2 separate regions of the Homo sapiens genome follow, and region 2 is reported to be linked to region 1. Evidence: microRNA targets listed by miRTarBase, many of them from high-throughput screens and not tested one by one. Region 1 holds a microRNA gene; the other region holds the end of a gene's coding sequence.
What was found. The annotated mature microRNA hsa-miR-6790-3p reads CGACCUCGGCGACCCCUCACU and lies in region 1 at 1,409-1,429, shown strand. An mRNA with a match to its seed (bases 2 to 7 or 8) in the 3' UTR can be bound and repressed. Matches are read on the target gene's strand: a 7mer-m8 pairs with bases 2 to 8, a 7mer-A1 pairs with bases 2 to 7 and ends in A, and an 8mer does both.

Region 2: miRTarBase lists NXPE1 as a target of hsa-miR-6790-3p. Seed matches in the 3' UTR shown: 7mer-A1 at 2,132-2,138 and 8mer at 865-872.

Annotation. Positions count from the first base shown.
Region 1 is chr19:6,391,120-6,394,353 of GRCh38, reverse strand. It overlaps MIR6790 (microRNA 6790), which reads left to right and starts at 1,371; the gene lies at 1,371-1,433. GTF2F1 (general transcription factor IIF subunit 1) reads left to right here and starts at 1,190. Exons shown (of 13, transcript NM_002096.3): 1 at 1,190-1,370; 2 at 1,451-1,497; 3 at 2,380-2,452. The coding sequence starts at 1,359. It also overlaps the pseudogene LOC390877.
Region 2 is chr11:114,519,167-114,522,694 of GRCh38, forward strand. It overlaps NXPE1 (neurexophilin and PC-esterase domain family member 1), which reads right to left. Exons shown (of 9, transcript NM_001395504.1): 9 at 1-3,337. The coding sequence ends at 2,802. It also overlaps a transcript of NXPE2 not described here. Among named protein-coding and RNA genes, the nearest start is that of NXPE1, 39 kb to the right of the region's middle.

The DNA of each region.
Region 1 (3,234 bases):
AGTGGTGGATGAGAAATAAATGAAAACAGACACATCGACGGTGTCTGTAGTTCATGGCCCAACTTTTGTGTCTTGCCCGCCTTCCCTTTGCTTAGCCAACTCCTATGCATCCCTCAGTGCCCAACTGAAACCTCCCCTCTTCTCTGAGCCCTCAGAGCCCCGCTGTGCTTCTCCTGCTCCTTCCTGGGTTGTAGATTCCCATGCTGTGACTCTGTCTCTTCCACGACACTGTAACCCTCGAGAGGACACTGTAATCCTCCGTGGGGAGCTGGTTTGACAGATTCACCTTGCGGGGCCCCGAACCCAGGAGGTGCTGGAGTATTTGCGAAGTGGAGCAATGAATGGTTGCGCCGTGAGCATGCGCAGTTGTGTTACTGCCATGATTCGGGGGATGTGTGCATGCCTGGAACGGGGTAGGGGATCCTGCATCTCCCTCCTGTTCTCGGCAGCTTCCTTCCCTTCCCCCCAGGAAGCCAGCCAGCCGCCCCCGCGACGTTACCCTTCTCCTGGGGCCTCAGAGCCCTGCCCATCTCGGGCAGCTTGGACTTGCAAAGACCCATCCGGCCAGCAGCTCTTGGGGTGGTCGCGCCCCGACCCCGCCCAGGCTCTGACCCCTCCTGGCTCGGCTCAACGTCACAAGGGTCCCCGCCCCGGTCATTTTGCGGGAATGACGGGGTCCACCCCTTCGGGGTAGGGGGAGGAAATGAACCCCAAACAGACCCATGGGGAGCCAAGCGGCGGTTCGACCCGACCCGAGTAGGCCTCGGTTGCTATGGTGACGCGGCCTTCTGGGCCCCCCAGGTCCAGAGCGGCAAGGCGCATGCGCAAAGTGCCTGGGAGCCCGCAAGGGGGATTCGTCTCCCTCTTCCCACCCAGGATGCCCCACGGTCCTTGGGTGCTGACGTCACGAGAGAGGGCGGTCCCCCATTTGATGAAGTTAACCGCGTTATATACAAGAGCGCCAGCGACAGAGGCCCGTTAGTTTATCTCAGACTCGGCCTAGGTTTGCTGAGTCTAAAAAGGGACCGCGGTGGACCTTTTGAGGTGACCATAGCCGCCGAGGAGCATAAGTGACTGCGCACTGAGGTGGCCACAGTCGCTAAGAAGGTTGCCATCGCGACGCGGCTGCTCGAGGGTTTCGCTTCCGGGTTAGGCGGCCGCAGAAGCGTAGACCGAGTAGCTTGAGCGCCTCTTCCGGTTACCTTTTCCCAGCGCCAGAGGCGCCTAGGGTTGGGGTCCTCGCTCAGGCACAGAGACCCGACACCGAGCGGCGGCTTCCCCGGGATCGAGGGACGCGCACGCCAGAGGAGACGAAAGGAACCCGGGTCGGACCAGATCGGAACCACTGACCATTGCCCATGGCGGCCCTAGTGAGTGTGGATTTGGCGGGGTTCGGGGGTTCCGACGGCGACCTCGGCGACCCCTCACTCACCGCTTCCTCTTTCCGCAGGGCCCTAGCAGCCAGAATGTCACTGAATACGTCGTTCGAGTTCCTAAGTAAGTCCCCAGCCCCATCTCCCACTCCTCTCCACCCCCCAAAAATGAAAACCTTCACGATCTTCTTAGCCAGCCATTTCTGGCCCTGTCTGTGGTTCTCCCTCCAGACCGGGAGAGACTTGGAGGGCAGGGCTGGGATTAAGCTGAGGCTTCTCTGGGGACAACACTGCTTTTTTGAACGAATGAATGAATGAGTGCATTAATACACGGTGATCCAGCCCCCTGGCCTAACCTTCGAGGAGTATATGGTCCCATGATGCCCAGGCCAGCTGTAAGGACATATTCCTCGTCCTGTTTCAAAGTGGTCAGGCTGTCTTTCCTTTCCAGGCCTTTGTACATCCTGTTCCTCTGCCATGAGTGCCTCCCCTCAACCCCTAAACTGTGACTCTGCTGGGTGAATTCTTGATGATTCTGCAAAACTCAACTCCAGTATCTTCCTCCTCCAGGAAATACTCCCTGCCTGTCCTCCCTCCTCCCCAAGGCTGAGTTCACAATAATCTCCACATCTTGGGTTCCCCCAAATCTTCGTCCCTCCATCTGCTCTTCTTCTGCCTGGGGTCAGGAGAGGATGGGTCTAGCTTCTCTGGCAGACTGGGAATCCTTGGAGTCTTCCGTATCCAGTGTTGCCAGGCAAAACAGGCTGAATGAAGCTGGGTGGGTTTGTTGAGTGAATTGAATTGAATTAATGATTCAATTGAATGGAATGATTGAATTGAATTAATGGTTCAATTGAATTGAGTGATTGAATTAAAGTAATGATTTGATTGAATTAACGATCCAGTTGGGTGGTTGATTGAATTAATGGTTCAATAGCATTGACTGATTAAATTAATGATTGAATTGCTGTATTGGATTGACACTACCTCTTCTCATCCACTCCAGGAATACAACCAAAAAATATAACATCATGGCTTTTAATGCAGCCGACAAAGTCAACTTTGCTACGTGGAATCAGGTAAGTCTCTGAGTCCTGGGGGTCAGGGGCTGGGGTGGTGAGAGAACTTGACCCTGACCTTGGTGGTTGTGATAGTTGCTTAACTGTCATAGTCACTAAGTCTTAATTTTCTCACTTTTCTCCAAGTGAAGAAAAGATAGATGACAAAGGGTTGGGTGCAGTAGTTCACACCTGTAATCCCAGCACTTTGGGAGGCTGAGGCAGGAAGCTTGCTTAAGGCCAGGAGTTTGAGACCAGCCTGGGCAATACAATAGCAAGACCCCAACTCTACAAAAAAATTAAAAAGTTAGTTGGGGCTGATAGCGTGGGTCTGTAGTCCTACATAGGAGGCTGAGGTAGGAGGATCGCTTGAGCCCAGGGGTTCAAGGCTGCAGTGAGCTATGATTGTACGACTGCACTCCAGCCTGGATAACAGAGCAAGACCCTGCCTCAAAAAAAAAAAAAAAAAAAAAAAAAAAAAAACGGAAATGGCAAAGGCCCAGGCCTAGCTCCTGGGTGTCCCTGTAAGTTAGGTTTGGTAGGCCCACCAGAGGCCTCTCCTTAAAGGAGAACATTTAGAAGCTGTGCCCACTGTTGGACATTTTTGGCCATGGTTTATCTGGGCAAGGGAGGGGACTGGGCTGGGGGCTTTCCCAGAGCCCCTGCCATCAGAGGCTCTAGAAAGGACTTTGGGAGCCATTAAAGCATCTTCAATTGGGAAGTTGTAGTGTGTGTGATCTGGCTGCTATGGGGAGACAAACTGTGGGTTTGAGGGCAAATAAACGGAGACCAAGGTAGAAGCA
Region 2 (3,528 bases), not on the chromosome of region 1:
AACCATTTTTCAAATTATACATATTTTTCTAAAGATACTTTACAGAAAATGCTTTCCCCCCGTTTGGCAAAAAGGTTCATTCTGTGAGCCCACTGAATTCGTATTAATAATAAAGTACATTTCACTATCATATGCTGTTCTCTCATTGGTTCTATCCCATTAACACTTATTCCTGGTTGTAGATTCTGGAGCTTTCTAAAGAGATGGTAAAACCTCTCTCTAAAGAGATGGTAAATGTTTTAATAAAGTTCTCTTTGGGGGAAAAAGAAGCAAAACTTAGTCTCTTTCCTCAAGATGTTTACAAGCTATTAGAGATAACAGATACTTTTAAAAATACATGTTTTTGTTTCTTTTATGGAGTAAATGACAAAACACTGTGGAAACATTATTCTTTCCCGGGGTGTCAGGGAAAGCTTCACAGAAGAAAATAATTCAATCTGGTTTTAAAGGGTGATTGGGAGTTTGACAGGTGGAAGGAGGGGCAGGAGGGCATTCTAGTCAGAAGGAGCAGCGTGTAGAGTGGTGCAGAGGCTTCAGAGACTGATGTATTTGAACACGTATTTGTCTTGTGTGTGGGACATTTAAAGAATTTTGTGTATGTATCTTTTATTTTTTATTGCATACATTTAAGGTATACAGTGTGATGTTTTGATATACATATGCATAGTGAAATGATTACTGTAGTCAGTATATTAACATATTCCTCACTGCACAATTACCTTTTGTTTGTTTGTTTGTTTTTTGAGACAGAGTCTCGCTCTGTAGCCCAGTCTGGAGTGCAGTGGTGCCATCTCGGCGAGCTTGCCCGCTAATTTTTTTTTGTATTTTTAGTAAAGACGGGGTTTCACTGTGGTCTCGATCTCCTGACCTCGTGATCCTCCCGCTTAGGCCTCCCAAAGTGCTGGCATTACAGGCGTAAGCCACCGTGCCTGGCCACAATTACCTTTTTAATTGAGGTAGAATACCTAAAATCTAGTCTCTCAGCAAATTTTCCATATACAATATTAACTATAGTTCTCATGCTGTACATTAGCTCTCTAGACATTCATCCAATAGAACTGCAAGTTTGTACCCTTTGACCTACACCTCCCTGTTTTCTCTTCCTCCCAGCCTGGATAACTACCATTCTACCCTGTTTCTATGTGTAGTTTTTAAGTTCCATATATAAGTGAGATCAAGCAATATTTTTCTTTCAGTATTATTTCTTTCCTTCAATATTGTTATTTTACTTAGCGTAACGTCCTCCAGGTTCACCCATGTTATTGCAAATATAGCAGCATCTCCTTTTGTAAGGCTGAATGATATTCCATTGTACATATATACTGCAAATTATTTATCTGTTCATCTATTGATGGGCACTTATGTTGTTTCTCTGTCTTGGCTATTGTGAATAATGCTGCAGTGAGCATGAGAATGCAGATATCTCTATGAAGTGCTGATTTCATTTCCTTTGGGATACTCAGCAGAGGGATTGCTGGGTCATATGGTAGTTCTGTTTTTAGGGGAACTGCCATACTGTTTTCCATAATGGCTGTACCAACTTACATTCCCACCAAGAGTGTATGAGAGTTCCCTTTGTGTGTGAAAATATTACCATCTCCTCATTTTTAGCAGGCACCTATATATAATGATGACTTCCAAATTGAGCATCTTTCTTACAGATCTCGCTCCTTCATAGGTGGTGTTGTATACTTTACATTGCATCAAATCATGTAGGACATAATGACCAGTTGTCCTGCTGTTACAAAGCTTTAAAATTAATAAAGCTAAGTTTGAGCAGTGGATTCAGAAGTGACAGCCTGCTATATCCATAGTAAAGTTCCAATCAAACCTTTTAAAAAAGTTCATTCACTGATGATCTCTGCCTTATTTACTTATTTGAGTAGAAGTTTTTAAATGGTGCTTTCCTAATTCTGTCGTTCTTTCTGTATTCATTAGCTGTAATTCTTCCAAAAAGAAGAAATTTCCTTTATCTATTAGGGTTATTGATTTTCTCTTTAACAGGAAAGAGGATAAATGTTCATATATTTCCCTTTTGTTGCCAATTTTCAAAATAAGGGTTTACCCAACTCCACTTACGACACATGAGAGATTTTGCTTTTATTCTTGCATGTCTCTTTTTGTATTGCTATGACCTCATGGATTTTATATATTATGTATTTCAATTAACTGCAGTCATTAGTCTTTTTGATGCTAAAACTAATCTATCTATGGCCAATGAAGAGACTCCTTTGGGTTACCTCCTCTGTTCCATGATATGATTCCATTTGTCTTTGATTATTTGCTTTCTGGCATAACAAGATGTCCAGGCTCATGGTATACATATTTTCTGTTCCAGTCCTGGAATCAGCCTTCCCTTCAAGGATGCCTCTTTTCTTTTATTGAGGAAGGGTTCTTAGACATCACAGTTAGGGTGCTCGGAGTGATTATTGCTAATGGGTTATCATTGCTCCTAGGCCTTTTCAATAGACAGAGCTAGGAAATATCTATATTGGAAATAGAAAGCATCATGAATTTGTACAGATATTTTCAAATCAGCTTAATAACATGGCTTTTAAAAAACTTTTTTAATATTTTAAACGAGCATCAGAACCAGGCATGGTATAGTCATTCTTCATGAATGATTCTCTTGGTTTTGCATCCCTTATCAGTTGTCATTGTCCTTACATAGCCTTCCTCCCCAAACAGATTCTTTTAAATTTATTTTCCTTAGTTCCTAAAATGAGTAAAACTTACTTTACAATACATGTGGGATTATGTGCAGAGATTGGTTCCTAGTGATTTTGTATAGTATTTATCCCTTAGCAAATGTAGTTTAAGAACATGTTAATCTGATTTCCAATCACATGATCAGGTGGGTGGATAGTGTCAGTGCCATATGCAATGGTCATGTCCCAGGCATCAATGATGCCCACGTTGAGGTCTTTGAAAATATCCTTCATGATAAGATAGTGAATATAACCATGGAAGTCTCCAAACCTCTCTGTCTCTATGTGCATCTCCCTGATGTTTTCTGTCTTAATAATCACTTTAGTGGCTGGGCTTCTTAGGAACAGTCTTTCAATAGCCTTTTGAACACCGATGGCCCTGCGAATAAAAATGTCAATGGGAAATGGTCTAAAGTGCTGGCCAAAGGTGATGACGATGGCTGTGTTTTTGTCACCTGATAGCCGGTCAATTTCCCGAGGGATATAATCATGATCTATCAGAGAGTAGAGCTGGAAAGTGACGAAGGGATAGCTATGTTTTTTCCATTGAATCTGAGTGTGTCTTTCTGCATCCAGAAGCAAATGTTTCTTAAAGATTCCAGTTTCATGAAGATCAAAAAACTTCAGTGCTGATAAAAAAACAAATAGATGTTTTAAATAGAAGATAATGGTTAATATTCATGAAAAAGAATGTCCTATCATTTAAAATACCCACCCTACCTAGATAATTGCTCACTGGAGCCTTTCTACTCTCTAGGGTACAGTACCCCCAGTTCATACATGTAAAATGTCAATCAAAAATGTAAAGTTTTCACTGGAA